4 linked regions of the Homo sapiens genome follow. The protein of the gene in region 4 interacts with the protein of the main gene of each other region in a biochemical or structural test. Each region holds a gene or a part of one and is shown on either strand. Other genes may lie near its edges.

Region 1 (5,136 bases), on a different chromosome or scaffold from region 4:
GGGAAAGTATTTTGAAGTCAGGCAGTCTGGTTTCAGGCCTTGATTACACCACCACTGGGCTGGGACTTCTTCCTTAGCTGAAAGTACCTTTGGGCTGCTAGAGGCAGGAGGCAGAAGTGAAGAGGAGGGAGGTGTCAAGTCCCTTTACCAGTCTGCTTCATACAGAGCAATCTACTTTTATGTATTTAATATATTGGACTCCAAGATATTGCTTCAAAGAAAAAAAAGTTTGAAAACCACTGGATTAGAGACTCCAAGGTCTAAAAAGACTTCTCTATTGTGTATATTTAAATCACATCTTTGATATTGATTTAACTAAATTTTCAATATGTTTTTGTCAATCTAAAGTTTTTGAGAAGATTTTTAAAAACAACCAATTTCCTCAAAGATCAAAGTGGAAATATAAATAGGAAGTGTCTCAAAACTTTGCAAAGTCAGGATACGAGCTGTACTGAAGAGAAAACAAAGGAAAGAAACTGAAATAAAACAGATGACACATCTTTTTCAAATGTCACATTTAATGTTTTCACCACTGTACTTCAAATCTACATTGTACAAAGTGACCAGAAAGTGTGCCACGGTAATTGACCAACCTCTGAGATTGTACCTTTCACACCAGTGTCTTCTTGGGCTCTTTTGATACTAAACACGTTTCTCATTCAAGTGAATTGAAATGCTTCAGTTGGGTTGATTCTCAGGAGCCTCATAAAAAAAAAACAAAGATATTGCACCATCTTTGTTTAGTAATTCAATGTTTGTTTCTTTCACAGCAAATAATTACTTCATTGAAGTTAAAACTTCCAAACATAACTTATTAATAGTCTTCAAATTCAGCTCAGATCACTCAAGTTGAAAATACTCTGCTAAATACAGATAACTTACAATAACTTTAACAGTTAATTGTCCATAACACACACCAAGGTTTTTTCCTAGACCAATTTTAAGACGATCCATTAGTATTCCTTGTACAGGTGAAAAATGATCTTCAATTTTCTTGTCTTTTTATTTTTAATATAAAAGTTGGAAGGGACATTCAAGTTTCAAGTCTCCACACTGAACTCAAAAAAAAAAAATAGTCATCATCAGCATGTGGAGGTAAACAAGCCAAGTTGTATAACTCCAGGAGGTAGAGGCCTTCGATTTGTATTCATATGTACATATGCACAGAAGAATTCAGTGTTCCAACAGAAAAAAAGAACTTGTCAAAAAGTAATAAGTTATTTACTACTGTGACATTTCAAGACTCCCACAGCTTTGCCTAAGGACACAAACACATTTGACATAATTCCCTATGTGCCTTTTTTTGTGGCTTAAATTTTTTTTTAAATTTGTTTTTGTCTTTTATTATTTTTTTACTGTCCAGTGCAGGAAAAGTCTCACAAAATTTCACAGACCTAAAATGTGCAAGCTAGTTCTCTTTCTATACAGCAATATTGGGATTCTTTTGAAATTAGCCCAGAAATGAATTATTTACACACATGAAAGATGCATGCTTGGGGTTCTTTTATGTAAGAAAGAGCAGAAAAACTTCTAATAAAAATAGATTAAATATATATATATATATTTATACTGGGTAAGGAAAACAAAAGTTTAGTCTCTCCTAGTCACAAACTCATTCTCTCTACCCACAACATTGGATTTTAGACAGCACACATCACCATCACGGCTCTAATGAGAAGCTAATTATAGGGCTTGATCATTAGGTGGCATGCCCCTCCTCCCTACCCTCCCCCCAGGTGCAGCCACGATCAGCTCACGTGGCTCCATGATTGGTCGCAGGCAAGGTTCCTAGATTCTTTAGTTTTAGAAAACCCCAAATCTTTAGGAATGGCTCAAATATCAAAATGTATGACTGTCCTTTGTGTTTGTGTGTGTGTGTGTGTGTGTGTGTGTGTGTGAACAATCTCACTTCATTTTAGAAAAGAAAAACAAAACATAAAACCCCAAACTCCCAAATTTGGTTCAATTCTCTTTTGTTCTGAGGTGAGCCATAACAGCTGCACTAAATTCATAAAACATGTGCAACTCTGGGTAAAATATTTTTCTTCTAAAAGCACAACCACTTTACAAGATTAAAAGTCTAGTAACATTTCTAAATATTATTCATATCATACAAGTAGTGGTTGTTAATTTAAAACTTCATTAGTAAAATTACAGTACAAGCATGATTAACCTCCAGAATTGCAAATCCCAGACTCCAGTGGAAAGCTACATTACATCTTCAGTAGTACATTATCTTCCACCATCACTCCCACACCAGAGGAGATGGGGGCATCTCAGATGGCTGAGCAACAGTGGAACTGGAAGAAAACAGAGATGGAGAAATTAGTTGTAATGTCACAATGGACAAAAGGGTAATTCACTACTTCCTGTTTTCCTCTCTTCCTCTGAAAAAATTAATTCCACTTCTGGATTTTTATTTGTTTCTTTGAAGTTGAATTTATTCTAAGTTGCTTGTTTATGGACCTGTTATCTATGGAGAGGCAATCTGGTATAGTGGCTAATATGTAGGCTTGAAAACCACATGTCATTTACTAGTTGTATGGCCCTGAGCAAGTGCCTTAATCTCTTCTCATTTGGAAAGAAATAATGCTGTTTACCTCATAGGATACTGGGATGAATAAATGATAATAGATGTGAAGTATTTTCCACAGTGCCTACTTCAAAGTGTAAAGTAAATGTAGGTATTACAAGTAATAATTTCAATAATCAATCAGGAAAATAACCTTAAGGGATGTAGAATCATCCATTTAAAAGTAGCCTCTCAAAATACAGTGGCCTATTTTGAATGGGCCTTATAAGCATTCTTTTATCAAGTATTAATGGAGAAGTATAGGTAATCATTTAGCATTGGTGATCTAGATCTGTTATTGGCTTTTTCCTATGTCTAAGATTGCTAATTAGATTATAAACTTGAGAGGGAAAAGTGTAACCCCTTGTTTCCCCAAGGCCCAGGATCATTTGCACCTAAGCTGCTAAACTGCCTAACTGACTGGGTCACTGACTCTTAGGGGAAAATAGTAAAACAAAGTAATTTAAAACCACAGATAAGTAAAAGTGCAACTTAATTCCTTCTTCCAATAGAAAAATACATGGAAGAAATGAAAGTCACCTGATTTTGCAAATTTTAAGCATAAAATCTTGACTGTGGTCCAACAAATCCAACCAACTTTAATATGATTAAAGGGAAAGGGCAGCAGGAAGAGAGAAAAAGGAGAGGAGAAAGGCAGCGGGGAAGATAGAGACTGTGTGACCACTCATATCCGAATCCACCCTTTGTCCTGCTTTGTGATACTGGAGCCAGACCCTGTTCATGGTTCCCCTTTGCCACCTAGCTTAATGTTAGCTTTTGTCAACAGAGGGTGCTGGAAGGGCATTTGCAAGGCTGTAGCATCAGGAAGCAGTCTCCCTTCCTTGGTTTGTTGTGCCTGTTTTTGGTCATGTGGAAGGCTCAGCTTTGGTCCACCCGAACTCTCCTGGCAGGCAGTCTTTGATGGACCAGTTCTGGCCACACCTTCTGGCACACTTCCTCTTCTGCACCACCCTCGTGCTGTGTGTTCCAGTTCCTGTGGCAGCCATACCCTCTCCAAAGAGGTCCTTACATGAGGAACCTCTTCTAAATTCTTAATTCCTTTCTTGTTTACTCTCCCTCAGTCTACAGGGAGTGGCTGCTTTCTGCATTTGCTACTTCAGCAGCCTTCAGAATCCTCTTTTATGCCTTTTAGCAGTTGATCATCTTTCCTAGTTAACAGTTCTTATTACTGAATTTTCCCCGTTTGTATTCTAGGGAAGTGGTTTATTTCTCCCGATTAGACCCTGATCAATATATAAGGAGTTAAGGAAAAAGAAATCAAGAGAAGGAAAGGACAGACAGACAAGGAGAATGAAGCCTGGTAACTTCCAATGTAGGTTCATAGCTCTACCATATGCCTTTTGACTTCTCCTCTAAATAGGCTACACCAGCAGTCCACCTACACACAAAAAAATTATTTTCTTGCTTGCAGTTATTACTAGGGAGTGAGAATGGTAGTGGGAACTGAGATGACCACGTCTAACTCCAGGACAGGTGGCCACCATACTAATGCTGCAGCAGGACTGCCATATATGTGATGAGGCAGCACAATGGTCATCCGGGGAAAAAATTGCCAAAGCAACCGCAGTGAACTGGCACCAGTGTAAAATGTGATGCTTACAGTTTTTTGTTTTTTTTTTTGAGATGGAGTTTCGCTCTTGTTGCCTAGGCTGGAGTGCAATGGTGCGATCTCGGCTCACCGCAACCTCTGCCTCCCGGGTTCAAGTGATTCTCCTGCCTCAGCCTCCCAAGTAGCTGGGGTTACAGGCATGCACCACCATGCCTGGCTAATTTTGTATTTTTAGAAGAAACAAGGTTTCTCCATGTTAGTCAGGCTGGTCTTGAACTCCAGACCTCAGGTGATCTGTCTGCCTTGGCTTCCCAAAGTGCTGGGATTACAGGCATGAGCTACCGCGCCCAGCCCAGATGCTTACAGTTTTAATACACTTTTGACTAAAGCCAAACCTCATAACAGAAACTTTCTGTTGCACCTTTTATCTATGTTATCTAAATAAAAACAAATATGCTGAATAATGAAGTAACACTGGCATCCTTTTAATTCTAACAAGAATGTTGAATTACATACATATAGTTACCTAATAAAGCTCTTAAAAGCAGCAGACTGAGGGTTGATGCAGAGAGGCACTCTGTTTCCTTTCTGCTGTTCCAAAATGAACTGATGAATAATTTCTGTGGAGAAAACAAACATCATACAATCCATGACAATTTGCAAGCCCGGGAGCAGTGAATTCTCAGCGAACTCTAGCCAGCATCTGAAAAGCACTGCCTACTGGTTTAGTTAAATCAAACACACACATCATCTATCAAGCAGAATTCAGCTGAACTTCCTAAAACTAAAATGACAGCTGTTGCTAAATATAAGAAACCTACTGGTGGCATTACACAGACTGCAACCCCATCAGTGGGAAGAGTAAAATGGCCTATAAATTTGAGAGAGACTCCACAGGTTTGGCATTATGGGTGAACTCTTCTAAGTTGCTGGCAATTATTGCCTTTTTGAAGATCACTTAAAGACCTCAGTTGGTATCTAGGTGTATAGTTTC
Region 2 (4,431 bases), on a different chromosome or scaffold from region 4:
CCCTTCACCTTTTGTTGTGTGCTTCTGGTTAACTTCCAGGTTCTTCAGTGGTTTTTGTCCAGTTTTGTTCAATTTTATCATTGCTTCACCATTTCAAGAAGTCCTGCTTCTATCTCATTCTTTGCACCAGCTAATTGATTATTCATTCTAGGAATTTATTAGTCATTTACTATCTAACAATGTATATGTTTCAAAGACAAGAAATGTATCATAAGAATGAAGTCCGTTTTGCAACAGCATATGTATCTTAGAGGTAGAGAGCACTTCTCACTCATCTTTGTAACCCCAGGTACAAAGCCTGGAGTAATGCTTAATACATAGTAGGGCTTTTACTATTTCCATAATGTCTATTTAATGGGTCTCCCCTCTACCTACTACTTTGTAAGATGTCTTACAAACACAGAAAGCAGTAAAGTAGCTGTCGTTGTTTCTAGCAGAAATGACTGGCTTGACAAAGGAGTTAAAAAAAACTTGAACAGAAGATGATTGACATTATCTTCTAATGAATGAGGAATGGAAAGGCAGTAATGGACCTGATGATTGCCAAGACTCTCATGACCCAGGGAAGGGAAGGGGAGGGGAGGGAAAAGGACAACTCACATCATCATCTTCAACTATGGTGACAAGGTATCCTCAGAGATGTGCTCTCAGTCCTTGAGTTGCCAACCCATTTGATCACTCAATGAAAGCTAAAGGCCCTGTTTTCCAAACCCACACTAGGAATGCTTCTAAATTTTCCCCATTAAAGAATGATGGTTGCTTCCTCTCTTCCTATTTGAATACCCTTTATTTCTTTCTCTTGCCTGATTGCCCTGGCCAGAACTTCCAATATTATGTTGAATAAGAGTGGTGAGAGCGGGCATCCTTGTGCCAGTTTTCAAGGGGAATGCGTCCAGCTTTTGCCTTTTCAGTATGATATTGGCTGTGGGTTTGTCATAAATGGCTTTTATTATTTCGAGGTATGTTCCTTCAACACCTAGTTTATTTAGAGTTTTTAACATGAAGGGATGTTGAATTTTATCGAAGGCCTTTTCTGTGTCTATTGAGATAGTCATGTGGTTTTTGTTTTTAGTTCTGTTTATGTGATGAATTACGTTTTGCAGGAACAGAAAACCAAACACCCCATGTTCCCACTTATAAGTGGGAGCTGAACAATGGGAACACATGGACACAGGGTGGAGAACAACACTGGGGCCTGTTGGGAAAGGGTAGTGGGGTGGAGAGCATTAGGGAAAAGAGCTAGTGCATGCTGGGTTTAATACCCAGGTGATGGGTTGACAGGTGCAGCAAACTACCATGGCACACATTTACCTATGTAATAAACCTGCACATCCTGCACATGTACCCCAGAACTTAAAAGAAATACAATGAAAAAAGAATGATGGTTGCTGTATCCTTTATCAAGGTAAAGTGAGGTTCCCTTCTATTCCTAGATTAATGAAATTTTTGTTTTTAACCTGAGAGGTTAAAACCTGAGAGGTTAAAAATTTTTGTTTTTAACCTGAGAGGTGTTAAATGTTAATAGATACTTTTTCTGTGTCTACTGACATTGCAGAACTTTTATCTTTTATTCTGCTAATGTAATAAGCTACATTTATGAACTTTGTAAAGTTTGGCTATCATTACGTTCCTGTACATTCACCACTAACTCTACTAGCAGATGATGTTTATTTTATACATTGCTGGTCTGTTTGGTGATATTTTATTTAGGATTTGAGCATCTACGTATACAAACAATATTGTCCTATAATTGTCTTTGCTTGTATTGTTCTATCTGTTTTTGGTATCAAGATTATATTATCATCACAAAATAAATTTAGTAGCTTTCCTTCTTGGTTTCTGCTAGGCTGTGAGTGCCAAAAATCTCAAAATAATAACTCCCAACAAGACTGAACTGTATTTCTCTCTCATATAAATGTCTAGGGATGTGGTCTAGAGTGATATAGCACTCCATAATGTTGGACACCTAGACTCTTTCTACCTGGTGGTTCTGACATGTTTGTCTTTGCCTCATAGTCCTTGATAGTGGCATTTGGTTTCCAGGAGGCAAGATAGAGGAAGGGATGAAGAAGAGAGCAAAGGATACTTGCAAGCACTTTCTTAAAGAAGGTTCCCAGAAGCCATCCCACAACACTGCCACTTACATCCCATTCTCTAGGATTTAGTCATGGGGACGCACTTAGTAGAAATGAAGGCTGAAAAATGTCATCTTGAATCTGGGTAGTCATGTGTCTAGCTAAAATAGAGTTCTATTTTTAAAGAAAAAGAGGAGTATAAATAACGAGGGCCTATAGGAATGTCTGCCTTGCCTCTTTTTCTCTTCTTCTTAATGGTTAAGGAACAGGCTGAAGGTCACACAATGGCTTGACTGGAGAGCTGAGATTCGCGCTCAGGTCAGTCTTCAAAGTCTGTACTTTTCACTACACCAAACTCTGCTTTATACCAGTCAAGGCTTAGAAGAATGTCTCCATCTGGGTCTGCTTACTGCATCCTTCAGCAACCATGAGCTAAAGAGAAATCCTATCACCACAGGAGTGGGCTGAGGTAGCCACCGGAAAGATCCATTTTTCCAAAAAGCAGTCAAGTATCTCCAAGCCTCCTCAACAGTCTTATTAAAGATGCCTGTCCAATTCTGGCCAAGGAAGCTCATCTGAATTCCAAGACCCTAATTAAGGTGTCTCTTTTACTTCTTATTTGTTGTAGCAAAACAAGGAAAGAATTATTGGCAGCACAGTGTAGGGAATGGAGCACTGAGGTCTAAGTTAGGGCCCTTGGGGTCTAGTCTCAGCTTTTATACTGACCATCTGTTTGGCCTGAGAAGTCACCTTTGCATCCTAAAACCTCAGTGTCATCAACTTCAAATTGGAAGCTTGGATACAAGGATCTTTAAAGATCTATCTAGCTCTAAATTTAGTGCTACATTTGTAAGAAAATTGAGAACATCAGTTAAGTATAATGCCATATTAATACTTTGCATTTATATATTAGTAGTATGATTCAGTTTATCATACGCTTTTCATCCTTGATCTCATTTGATCTCAATAACAACTTTGTGAAATACATAGGGAAGTTACTAATATATAATTTATAGTTAAATATAGGTGGTATTTTTGTGGTCATTTCCACAACAGCACAGAAAATAATAGAGTAGATCCTAAGATTTGTTGAGTATCCATTGTGTGCTACGTTTGAGGTAATATTTCTATGGAAAAAAATTAGATTTAACTTATAACTGTGTCAACTATTCCAAGAACATAAGTGACTGAATTAATGAGAATTCCCTGTGTTATTCATCTATCAATGTTTAAGCCCATGATGTACATAGCCTGGGAGAGGACAGTTAGGGCTATGGAGAACTGTACAGGAGATAGCTCCCTGCTGCAGTGGAGAGACATGTGCCATTAGAGAATTCAATTCTATGCATTAATGGGGGTGAAAGATAAACTGGATGATCCAACAGGGGTAAACAGGTGGCAGTATAGCTGATCAATTTAGACTCCAGTCAGTGAAAATACGTGATAAATTAGACAAAGGTATAATTAGTGGACAGAGGAATATAACATCTGGAACCCCCAAATCTCCATCTGGAAAAGTCATGACATATTTATAATTAAGAACCCACCCTCTGGGGTGTAAGCTATTAAAAACGGCACACTGTGGATGAGATTCACTGTCTATGGGAGACCTTCCCAGTGGTAATCCATCTACATACTGGGTAACAGTGAAGTTGTAGCATCTCATCAGGAACCTGTCAACCTAAGAAGCATTTGATAAGAAGACGAAGCGAGTCTTTGGTTATGTTATAAAAAGTGGTCCAAGATGGCTGGGCATGGTGGCTCACGTCTGTCATCTGAGCACTCTGGGAGGCTGAGGAGGGTGGATCACCTGAGGTCAGGAGTTCGTGACCAGCCTGGCCAACATGGTGAAACCCCGTCTCTACTAAAAATACAACAATTAGCTGGGTGTGGTGGTGCGCCTGTAATTCCAGCTACTTGGGAGGGTGAGGTGGGAGAATTGCTTGAACCTGGGAGGCAGAGGCTTCAGCGAGCCGAGATTGTGCCACTGCACTCCAGCCTAGGCAACAGAGCCAGACCCCATCTCAAAAAAAAAAAAAAAAAAGAAAAGTGGTCCAAGATGCTCAAAGGTGATAATAAAAAAGGCAAATGCAAATAGAAATGTGGTGGGTCTTATCCAGGCTTCCTGGGAGAGTTAAGAGGATGCCCTGTCTAGGATCTGTGTTCTTACAGAGGACCTGGATTCTTAGCAGCCTGCTATATTCTAGGACACAAACATCATAGAATGGTCATCATTCCAGTGTATCACGTTTCTCTTCCTCAAGTGCAAATTGACTGAGGGGTGGGCTTCTGGTTATTAACAGGCTTCTAGCTGCAGTGATACTCAGACACACAAGCATCCTCCTCTTTGTTACAG
Region 3 (4,000 bases), on a different chromosome or scaffold from region 4:
GGCTGCTCCCCAGCTCTGGGTCTGCTCAGCGGAGAGGAGCAAATACCACGACCCAGAGGAGAGAGCCTGTGGAGAGGGCACCTTGACAGGGGCAGTAGACTTTGGTCCTGGGATGCAGCTGGCCCGTATCTACCCCTCAGGGAGGGCCTGGGAGAATAGATGCCCTGACCTCACTTTCTGCCCCAAACTCCTGCTGGGCTCCTCTCTGGCTAACCCAAACCAGGCCTGTTGGTGCAGTGTACACTGGTCAGCCTTGGGGCAGAAGCAGGGTAGAGACAGGCAGAGAGTGGGGTTGGAGGGGCAAAGGGAAGACGTCTGGCACACCCCAAGCCACGTCTTCCGGCTGGAGTCCAGTGGCAGTAATGTACATTAAGGTTGATGACTGGACACGGTGGCTCATGCCTGTAATCCTAGCACTTTGGGAGGCCGAGGCGGGAGGATCACCTGAGGTCAAGAGTTCGAGACCAGCCTGACCAACATGGTGAAATCCCATCTCTACTAAGAATACAAAATTAGCCAGGCATGGTGGCTGATGCCTGTAATCCCAGCTACTCAGGAGGCTGAGGCATGAATCTCTTGAACCTGGGAGGCGAAGGTTGCAGTGAGCTGAGATCATGCCATTTCACTTCAGCCTGGGCGACAAGAGCAAAATTCCATCTCAAAAAAACAAACAAACAAAAAAAAAACGGTTGATAGTTATGGACTGGGCAGATGAGGGTTAGAATCTCATTGTGGGACAGGGAAGTTACCTCCATGCTCTTGAGCTTCACTTTCTCTGCCTGTAAGATGGTGCTGATAGTATCCACAGCTGTAGGGCTCTTGTGAGGGCTGAGGGAGGGAACGCAGGGATGGACACAGCAGAGGGCCAGGCCGTGTGTGCTGAGCAACACGGGTGATGCCTCCCATCCCTATGACAAGGCTGAACGGAGGGTGTTGGAAGAGGAGCTGACGGTTCACCTCTCTGTCCCTGGGGACACTATCCTCATCAACAACCGCCCAGGTCCTAGAGAGCCACCCCCGTACCAGGAGCCCCGGCCTCGTGGGAATCCGCCCCACTCCGCTCCCTGTGTCCCCAATGGCTCTGGTAAGACCTGCCTTGTTCCAGTCGCACCTCTGTCCTCTCTGCTGTTTTCTTATTGTATCCCTTTCCCATTCTCTTTTTTTCCTGTCTTCCCCAGTTTCCACTTGTTTTCTTCTTTCTGTGCCCCTGGTTACTGTCTATATCACTCTTTGTCCCTACCATGTAGTCTCTCTCAAGAGTTCCCCATGTATTACCCATAGTCCCCCGTGGTGCTATCTTGTCTGTGTCCCACAGACATCTCTCTATCTTTGTTGTACCCTCTCATTGTGTCTCCCTGGCCCCTTTGCTTTGTATTAGACTCACCATGTTTGTTCCTTCATCTATCCTCCATCACCCATCCTTCCATCCATAGTCATACATCCTTGCATCCATCCATCAATCTTCCATCATCTGTCTTTCTATCTATATTCATAAATCTATTCATCCATCCATCCACCCACCCATATCCATCATCCATCTATCCATCTATATTCACACATCCATCTTTCCATCTGTTATCCATCCATCCAACAAAACATCTGTTTACCATCCATCCATCTATTCATACGTCCCATCTGTCCATGCATTCATTATCCAGCCAGCCGTCCGTCACTCTGCAGATCCTTGTTTTATCCTGTCTGTCTCTTAATGCAATCATCCCATCAGCCCTGGTCTTGCCCTATTCAAGGTCTCCCTGTCTGTCTAGCCTTGAGTCTCATCCCTTCCCCGTGTTTCCCCTCCTCCTTCTCCCGACAGCGTTGCTGCTCTCCAATCCAGCCTACCGCCTCCTTCTGGCCACTTACGCCCGTCCCCCTCGAGGCCCGGGCCCCCCCACACCCGCCTGGGCCAAACCCACCAACACCCAGGGTAAGCCCCTCTGCCCCTGGGCTCCGCCAGGCTCCCCATACCTCTACTGGGGCAGGGAAAAGCCCTCACACCTTGCACTTCCTCCTCTCCCCACTGTGGCCTATTCTGCTCTCCTGAGCTCCCAAGGAGGAAGCTCTTGTGCCCTTAGCTCATCTCTGCTGCTGCTTGCTCTTTTTTAAGGTCCCCCCCTTGAGCTGAGGAGTAGAAAGCTTACTGGTCCCCAGCTCTTCTCCCTCCTCCTCTTCCACGCCATCTCTTCAGCTCTCCAGAGCTAGACAGGAGGTTGCTGTGGTGGCCCCAGACTATAGTAACTCCTCCTTTATTCTCCACTCTCTCTAGAGCTGCGAGGAGGAGGGCTCTCACCCCGGGCGCTTGCCCTTTCCCTCACATGTGTCCTCTCTCTGCAGTCCCAGAGGTGAAGGCTCATGCCCCAACCCTTTCCATCTGCCCCTCTTCTCCTCAGTGTTGCCTTCTCATTGTGGCCCCTTCCCCAGGGCTAAGAGGGGACAGCTCTGCTTCCTCTCCTGTCTGTAGACAACTTGTGTTGGGGCTGTGAGCAGCTGTTACCCTCCCTCCTCTCTGTGTGCCTCTGTCTCTGCTTGTTGTTGAGCTTGGTGTGTTGGGTTGAAAGGGTTGGGAGGGCTTGGCCCCAGGGGGAGCCAGGCTGAAAGCCACGGGAGAGCAGCTAAGTGAAGGGGAGGGAGCTGTGGTGAACGGGACAAGGGTTTGGAAGGTGGAGGGTGCCTGGATGCTGGGACCATCCTGAGGCGGGAGAATTCCTGGGGAGGAATTCTTCTTCCAGCCAAGATTTATCTCACAGTCTCTTGAGAGACCCTAGGGAGGCCCTAAAAGAGTAAGACTTTATGACAGTTTTGCTCAACCATATTCATTGCCTTGAAAAGCTCTGGAATAGCTAACTCTCGTCCCATGCCAGTGTCTTCCTGGTTTGAGGTTGGCGCATGGAATACTGGGAAGATACAGCATAGACCCAGTCTCTCACTCAACCGGGAGACACAGGGCCCTCCGGGAGGCTGAGGTGTGGGGAACTATAGCTCTTGGGCTGTTCCTGATGCCTCGTCCTGTCTTCTTTCCCCTCACCCCTGCAGCCTACAGTGGGGACTATATGGAGCCTGAGAAGCCAGGCGCCCCGCTTCTGCCCCCACCTCCCCAGAACAGCGTCCCCCATTATGCCGAGGCTGACATTGTTACCCTGCAGGGCGTCACCGGGGGCAACACCTATGCTGTGCCTGCACTGCCCCCAGGGGCAGTCGGGGATGGGCCCCCCAGAGTGGATTTCCCTCGATCTCGACTCCGCTTCAAGGAGAAGCTTGGCGAGGGCCAGTTTGGGGAGGTAAGGAGGGTGCCTACCCAGTGTCTGGCCCTATTGTGTGCTCTGATGCCATGCCTGCGCATCCCCCTAGCCAGGAACCTTAGTCATTTGTAACCGTGTTAATCCGTTTGACCCTGTGACCGCCTAGCAAACGAACTTCTTTCTCCAGGTGCACCTGTGTGAGGTCGACAGCCCTCAAGATCTGGTTAGTCTTGATTTCCCCCTTAATGTGCGTAAGGGACACCCTTTGCTGGTAGCTGTCAAGATCTTACGGCCAGATGCCACCAAGAATGCCAGGTGAGGACCAGGGATGGCATCTGGAAGAAGGGAGGGGAGGCCGTGAAGAGTGGGGAGCCATCTAGAGAGAACAATGGCAGAGCCCAACAGAGGGGTGGCATCTCTGGGAGGGGATTTACATGTACGCTGGGGGTGGGGACGCCTGGTCTGCCTGAGGTGGGGCAGGGGGGTGGGGGCGCGGGGGAAGGTGCAGGCCGCCCACTCGGCATTCCTCTTCAGCTTCTCCTTGTTCTCCAGGAATGATTTCCTGAAAGAGGTGAAGATCATGTCGAGGCTCAAGGACCCAAACATCATTCGGCTGCTGGGCGTGTGTGTGCAGGACGACCCCCTCTGCATGATTACTGACTACATGGAGAACGGCGACCTCAACCAGTTCCTCAGTGCCCACCAGCTGGAGGACAAGGCAGCCGAGGGGGCCCCTGGGGACGGGCAGGCTGCGCAGGGGC
Region 4 (5,363 bases):
GACACCAGGCCCCAGACCTCCTTCCAGGAAATTGCAGGAACCACAGCAGGGCAGCCCCACAGACCTGAGGGAACCGCTGCCCCACCCCCGCCCCACAGAGCCCTGGTGTCTGGGCTGCAGCTGAGGCTGAGGGGCTGAGGACTCGGAGGATGGGATCTCCCGCCCAGCGGGTGCAGCCAGGTGGGAGGGGCCAGGCCCCCAGGGTTCACAAGGCCCCTTGGGGACCCACCCGAAGCCACCGCTTTGCATTAGGCAGGGCGTGCGGAGAGGGCCCTGTTTAACCGTGCGGGCTCAATCTGGAGTGTAGACGGCAGGACGCCCCCAGCCCTGGGCCCCTGAGCCTGTGAGTGGGGGGTTCAGAGGTGAGGCCTCTACAGAAGTCTCCCTCCCAGGGGCAATGGGTGCAGGGTAGGCGGGGAGCACTCAGGATCCCTCCCAGGGGCAATGGGTGCAGGGTGGGAGTGGGTGGAGGGGGGAGCACTCAGGATCCCTCCCGGGGCAATGGGTGCATGGTGGGTGGAGGGGGGAGCACTCAGGATCCCTCCCAGGGGCAATGGGTGCAGGGTGGGTGGAGAGGGGAGCACTCAGGATCCCTCCTGGGGCAATGGGTGCAGGGTGGGTCGGGGGGAGCACTCAGGATCCCTCCCAGGGGCAATGGGTGCAGGGTGGGAGTGGGTGGAGGGGGGAGCACTCAGGATCCCTCCCGGGGCAATGAGTGCAGGGTGGGTGGAGAGGGGAGCACTCAGGATCCCTCCCAGGGGCAATGGGTGCAGGGTGGGTGGAGGGGGGATCACTCAGGATCCCTCCCAGGGGCAATGGGTGCAGGGTGGGAGTGGGTGGAGGGGGGAGCACTCAGGATCCCTCCCGGGGCAATGAGTGCAGGGTGGGTGGAGAGGGGAGCACTCAGGATCCCTCCTGGGGCAATGGGTGCATGGTGGGTGGGGGGGAGCACTCAGGATCCCTCCCAGGAGCAACGGGTACAGGGTAGGGGGGCGCACTGAGGACACTGCTGGGGAGTTTCTCCTCCCAGAATTCCACAGGTCTCGGAGATACACTGAAAGCAACCCCAAAATGCTAGGACCGCCTATAACCGCCCTGCACCACCCCTGGGGCAACCAGGCACCCCGATGCTAACACGCACGCATCCTCCCGACAGGGAGAAGTCCCCCAGCTGCCTGCAGACAGGGCCTCGCTGTCAAGGGCCACTGGCTGGCCTGGTGCCCTGCAGGGGACATGGCGCTTCCCCGTCCCAAGGGCAACTTGGAGAGGACACCATCTGTGTCTCAGAGTGAGGGGCCAGGTTCCTAGCTCTCTCCTGTCACACGGGCCTGGATCTAGGCCAGGGCATAGCCAGTCACTCTAAGCTGACCCTGAGGGTCCAGGGGGAGAAGCAGCCTGGAGCCAATCACACAGAGCTCTGTCCAGGGAAGGGAAGGCCCCGGAGCAGGCAGACTGGGCGGGTGGGGGCTGAGATGCCTGCCCGCCCCATGGATGTGTCCAAAGCCTCACTGCCCCCCGCTGCCCCAGCCACCGCCGCTCCTTTGGTCTGGAGCTCCCTGCCGCTGACCCTGTCCCAGCCAGCGTGGAAGCTGCTCCGTGGTGGGCCTCACTTGAAAGCCACAGCAGGTGCACCCAGATGGGGTCCCACAGCACTGACTTTGCACACAGGAGGCCATGAAGGCTGCAGTGACTACCCCTAGCTTGTGGCCAAGCCCGTCCATCCTGTGGCCTGGTTCTTAAGGGGCATGCTCCTCCCCTGCCCAGGGGGGCCTGCATCTGCCGTGCCCACCCATACCCCAGGGTTCAGCATGTAGTAGATGCTCAATAAAGACCCTCTACTTTGCATTCTTACAGCACCAGGCGTGTGGACGCTCAGTGACCGCGGCCCCACTGTGTGCCTCCTGGGGGCTAAGGGATGCTGAACAGCTTGGCGGCTGGCATGAGTGAGGCCCAGGGACAGGTTGTGAGCCTGTCTCGGAGTCCTGAGCAGGACAGGGGCCGCGGGCACGCCAGTCCATCCTACAGGTTCACCTGGGAATATGCCAGGACTCCCTCTAGGGGGCTCTGTGGCTGTCGGGTGGCTGCACCGGCCCAGAGTGAGCGCCATCTCTTCCAGGAAGCCACCCCGGACGCCCTCCCAACACCTGCCTCCTCTGGACTGTCTGGGAGCTGGGATGCTGGGGTCCACCTCTGGCCAGTCCCTGATGCTTCTGGAGGCTAAAATGTAGTCCTCAGAAGAATGCAGTTCTAGTCCACGCGTGACATGGATGAACCTTAAACACATCACGCTCAGTGAAAGAAGCCAGGGGCAAAAGACCACCTATGGCACAATTCCATTCATAGGCAACGTCCAGAAGAGGCGAATTCAGAGGCAGAAAGCGGGTTAGTGGTTGCCAGGGGCTGGGGCAGTCAGGGCAGAGTGACAGTATTTGGGTACAGTTTCTGTTTTGTGCAGTGAGAAAGTCCCGGAACTAGATAGTGGTTGAATGAACTTGTGAATGGACTAGATGTCAAGCAACAGCATGCTTTAGTTCAAAAGTCACATTTTCAGCCTGGACAACATAGCAAGACCCCGCTTCTGCAAAAAAATTTAAAATTAGCTAGGCATGGTGGTGCACACCTGTGGTCCCAGCTACTCTGGAGGCGGAGGCAGGAGGATCGCTTGAGCCCAGGAGTTTGAGGCTGCAGTCAGCCGTGATCCCACCACTTCACTCCAGCCTGTGTGACAGGGTGAGACCCCATCTCAAAAAACAAAAAAGTGGCCATGCACAGTGGCTCACGCCTGTAATCCCAGCACTTTGAGAGGCCAAGGCAGGTGGATCACCTGAGGTTAGGAGTTTGAGACCAGCCTGACCAATATGGTGAAACCCTGCCCCTACTAAGAATACAAAAATTAGCTGGGAGTGGTGGTATGTGCCTGTAGTCCCAGCTACTCAGGAGCATCGCGTGAATCTGGGAGGCAGAGGTTACAGTGAGCCAAGACTGCGTCACTCTAATCCAGTCTGGGTGACAAAGCAAGACTCCATCTCAAAAAACAAACAAAAAAAGGCAAATTTTGTAATATGAATAAGTCATCACCCAGAATCCCTCCATATACATATCCATCCCCAAACCAGTCCTTAGCTCCCTTTGCTCCCAGGGAGCAGGGTGGGGTGGGGCAGGGCCACAAGGAGAACCCAACCAGGCAACTTTGGAAAAGGGCTTCCCTCCACCCTCCCACCCCTGCAGCCACTGCCCCTTCCCCAGCTGGGGCGACCACCGAGCCCAGCGCAGGCCTCGCCGCAGGGCCCACAGCCACCACCACGCCTTCAGCCCGCCCCAGGGTCCCGCTGGCTGTAGTTGGAAGGGGAATCACATACAGATGGGGAAACTGAGGCCCAGGGAGGGGACAGTGTGGGGAGCACAGCAAATCAGAGCCAGCCCTGCTTCACAGCCCCTCGGAGCTCCGGGCCCCACAGGAGAAAGCGCCAGCGCTGCCTGGGAAACTCGAGGCCGTCAAACGCAGCCCGGCCCACAGGTGTGATGCCCCAAAGCCAGCCGCTCGTTAAAGCTGCTGGTATTTCCTCCTCAGCCCGGGGAAAGATCCGGAAAGTTCTGGATATGCCTGCACATGAAGGTGAAAGCTGACGCCAGCCTGCCTCAGATCCCCACGCCCTCGCAGCCACAGCTTTCCCACCTGTGCGCTGGGGATGAAAACTGCACTGGCACACCTGGAGGGTGGGCGGCCGTCTGCCAGGGCTTTTACGAGGCTGGGTAACAGCGGCGTCCTGAGTGTGGAGCTGTCATCGCTGCATTATTGAGGAAGGCAAGCTAGACGCCCAATCGATTCTGCAAAGCCACATCCTTTCACTATTTATAGACGAGACATGAAACAGGAAAGGTCCCCTCCCCACAGCAAAAGGGTGCAGTCCCTCGGCCCGGCCTGGAACTGCCCAGTGGGCACCGGTGGCCGCTGCTGCCCATCACAGGTGCAGGGAATGAGGAATGAAGCCAGTCCCGGCTCCTGTGGGGTCTCCAGTTTGCCGCCCGCATCTGGGGGTCCCCGCACCCAGCTCTGCCCTGTGGAAGCACTTCCCCTGGTGCACTGTCTGCCCTGCCCTACCCTCTTCCTGCCAGGGTTGCTGTTTTCTTTCTCCCTCTCTCTTTTTCTATTATTATTCTTTTCAATGGAAAACATGTTGGCTGCTGTTCAGAGGCAGGGCCTGCCCCAAGGAGCCAGCTTCCTTCAGAGCACTCCAGGCTCCCACCCCAGTCTCCGCCCCAGGCCTTCCTGTTCCTGATGTCTCCCCAGTCTGAGTAGGTGAGACTTTCTATTTGACACTGTGTGGGGTTTTTTTTGTTGTTTTTTGTTTTTTTGAGACAGAGTCTCACTTTGTCACCCAGGCTGGAGTGCAGTGGCACGATCTCAGCTCACTGCAGCCTCCGTCTCCTGGGTTCAAAGGATCCTCCTGCCTCAGCTTCCCAAGTAGCTGGGATTACAGGCACACGCCACTGCGCCTGGGTAATTTTTGTATTTTTAGTAGAGACGGGGGTTTCGCCATGTTGGCCAGGCTGGTCTTGAACTCCTGACCTCAGGTGATCTGCCCACCTCGGATGCTGCATGTTTTTAAACATGTTTTTCTAACCCTGGCGCCCTTGAAGACCAGGTTCTGCATAAACAGGAGGTCCTGTCACAGGCCTTTCCGCTCAGCTCAGCATGAGGAGGAGAATCAACCTGTTCCTCCCCTGGCCACGCCCAAGACGAGGCAGGTGACTCAATGGAAAGAGCCAGACCGGGTGACAGGAGCTACCCCGTCCCTCCCCAGCCTCCCAGGCCGGCTGCAGGGCCAAGTCACTTCCCGCCTGAGCCTCCTTCCTCTTCTTTTAAGGGGAAGCCACGCCCCCAGTCCGCTTGTAGTCGGGAAATGACGGGGCAGCTCAGGCTGGCTGGGGCTGTGTTTAGGGACATTCGCTTGGGAGAAGGAGAGGGGCAGGGCTAGTAGGAATTCTGCCACTGCTGTGTGACCCTGGGGCTGATGGCGACTTCTCTGGGTCTCTTCTTCTCACTTATCGGTGCCTGATCCAGACAGCTTTACGGGGCTGCCGGGAGCTATGCCAGGCCACCACCGGGCCGGCACACCCCCAACATGTCCCACATGTGAGCTAGGTGCCTCTCTCACGCCTTGCTGGGAAGTGAACTCCACAGGAGCAGGGGCCATGTCTGCCCTGTCCCCACCGGGGGCCTGGCCTGGAGCAGAACGCAGCACACAGCAGGCGCTCAAACGTGTCTGTGAACTGGAGCCACCCTGGGAGATGGACTTCCCCGGAGCTGGAGCCATCCTGGGAGATGGACTTCCCCAGAGCCGGCAAGTCCCTCCCCAGGC

Evidence for each region.
Region 1: of the proteins of NOTCH1 (region 4) and NLK, one has a biochemical effect on the other in vitro, tested with the Homo sapiens proteins (one study listed by BioGRID).
Region 2: the proteins of NOTCH1 (region 4) and CASR form a complex in vitro, tested with the Homo sapiens proteins (one study listed by BioGRID).
Region 3: the proteins of NOTCH1 (region 4) and DDR1 form a complex in vitro, tested with the Homo sapiens proteins (one study listed by BioGRID).

What each region holds. Positions count from the first base shown.
Region 1 is NC_000017.11:28,191,746-28,196,881, reverse strand, and holds the end of NLK (serine/threonine-protein kinase NLK), read right to left. Parts: intron 4,763-5,136; coding exon 4,669-4,762; intron 2,301-4,668; coding exon 2,246-2,300; 3' UTR 501-2,245; downstream 1-500. UniProt on the Homo sapiens protein: Serine/threonine-protein kinase that regulates a number of transcription factors with key roles in cell fate determination. Positive effector of the non-canonical Wnt signaling pathway, acting downstream of WNT5A, MAP3K7/TAK1 and HIPK2.
Region 2 is NC_000003.12:122,276,737-122,281,167, reverse strand, and holds part of CASR (extracellular calcium-sensing receptor isoform 2 precursor), read right to left. Parts: intron 1-4,431. UniProt on the Homo sapiens protein: G-protein-coupled receptor that senses changes in the extracellular concentration of calcium ions and plays a key role in maintaining calcium homeostasis.
Region 3 is NC_000006.12:30,893,588-30,897,587, forward strand, and holds part of DDR1 (epithelial discoidin domain-containing receptor 1 isoform 2 precursor), read left to right. Parts: intron 1-918; coding exon 919-1,084; intron 1,085-1,816; coding exon 1,817-1,927; intron 1,928-3,033; coding exon 3,034-3,278; intron 3,279-3,426; coding exon 3,427-3,554; intron 3,555-3,773; coding exon of another isoform or gene 3,774-3,791; coding exon 3,792-4,000. UniProt on the Homo sapiens protein: Tyrosine kinase that functions as a cell surface receptor for fibrillar collagen and regulates cell attachment to the extracellular matrix, remodeling of the extracellular matrix, cell migration, differentiation, survival and cell proliferation.
Region 4 is NC_000009.12:136,535,051-136,540,413, forward strand, and holds part of NOTCH1 (neurogenic locus notch homolog protein 1 preproprotein), read right to left. Parts: intron 1-5,363. UniProt on the Homo sapiens protein: Functions as a receptor for membrane-bound ligands Jagged-1 (JAG1), Jagged-2 (JAG2) and Delta-1 (DLL1) to regulate cell-fate determination.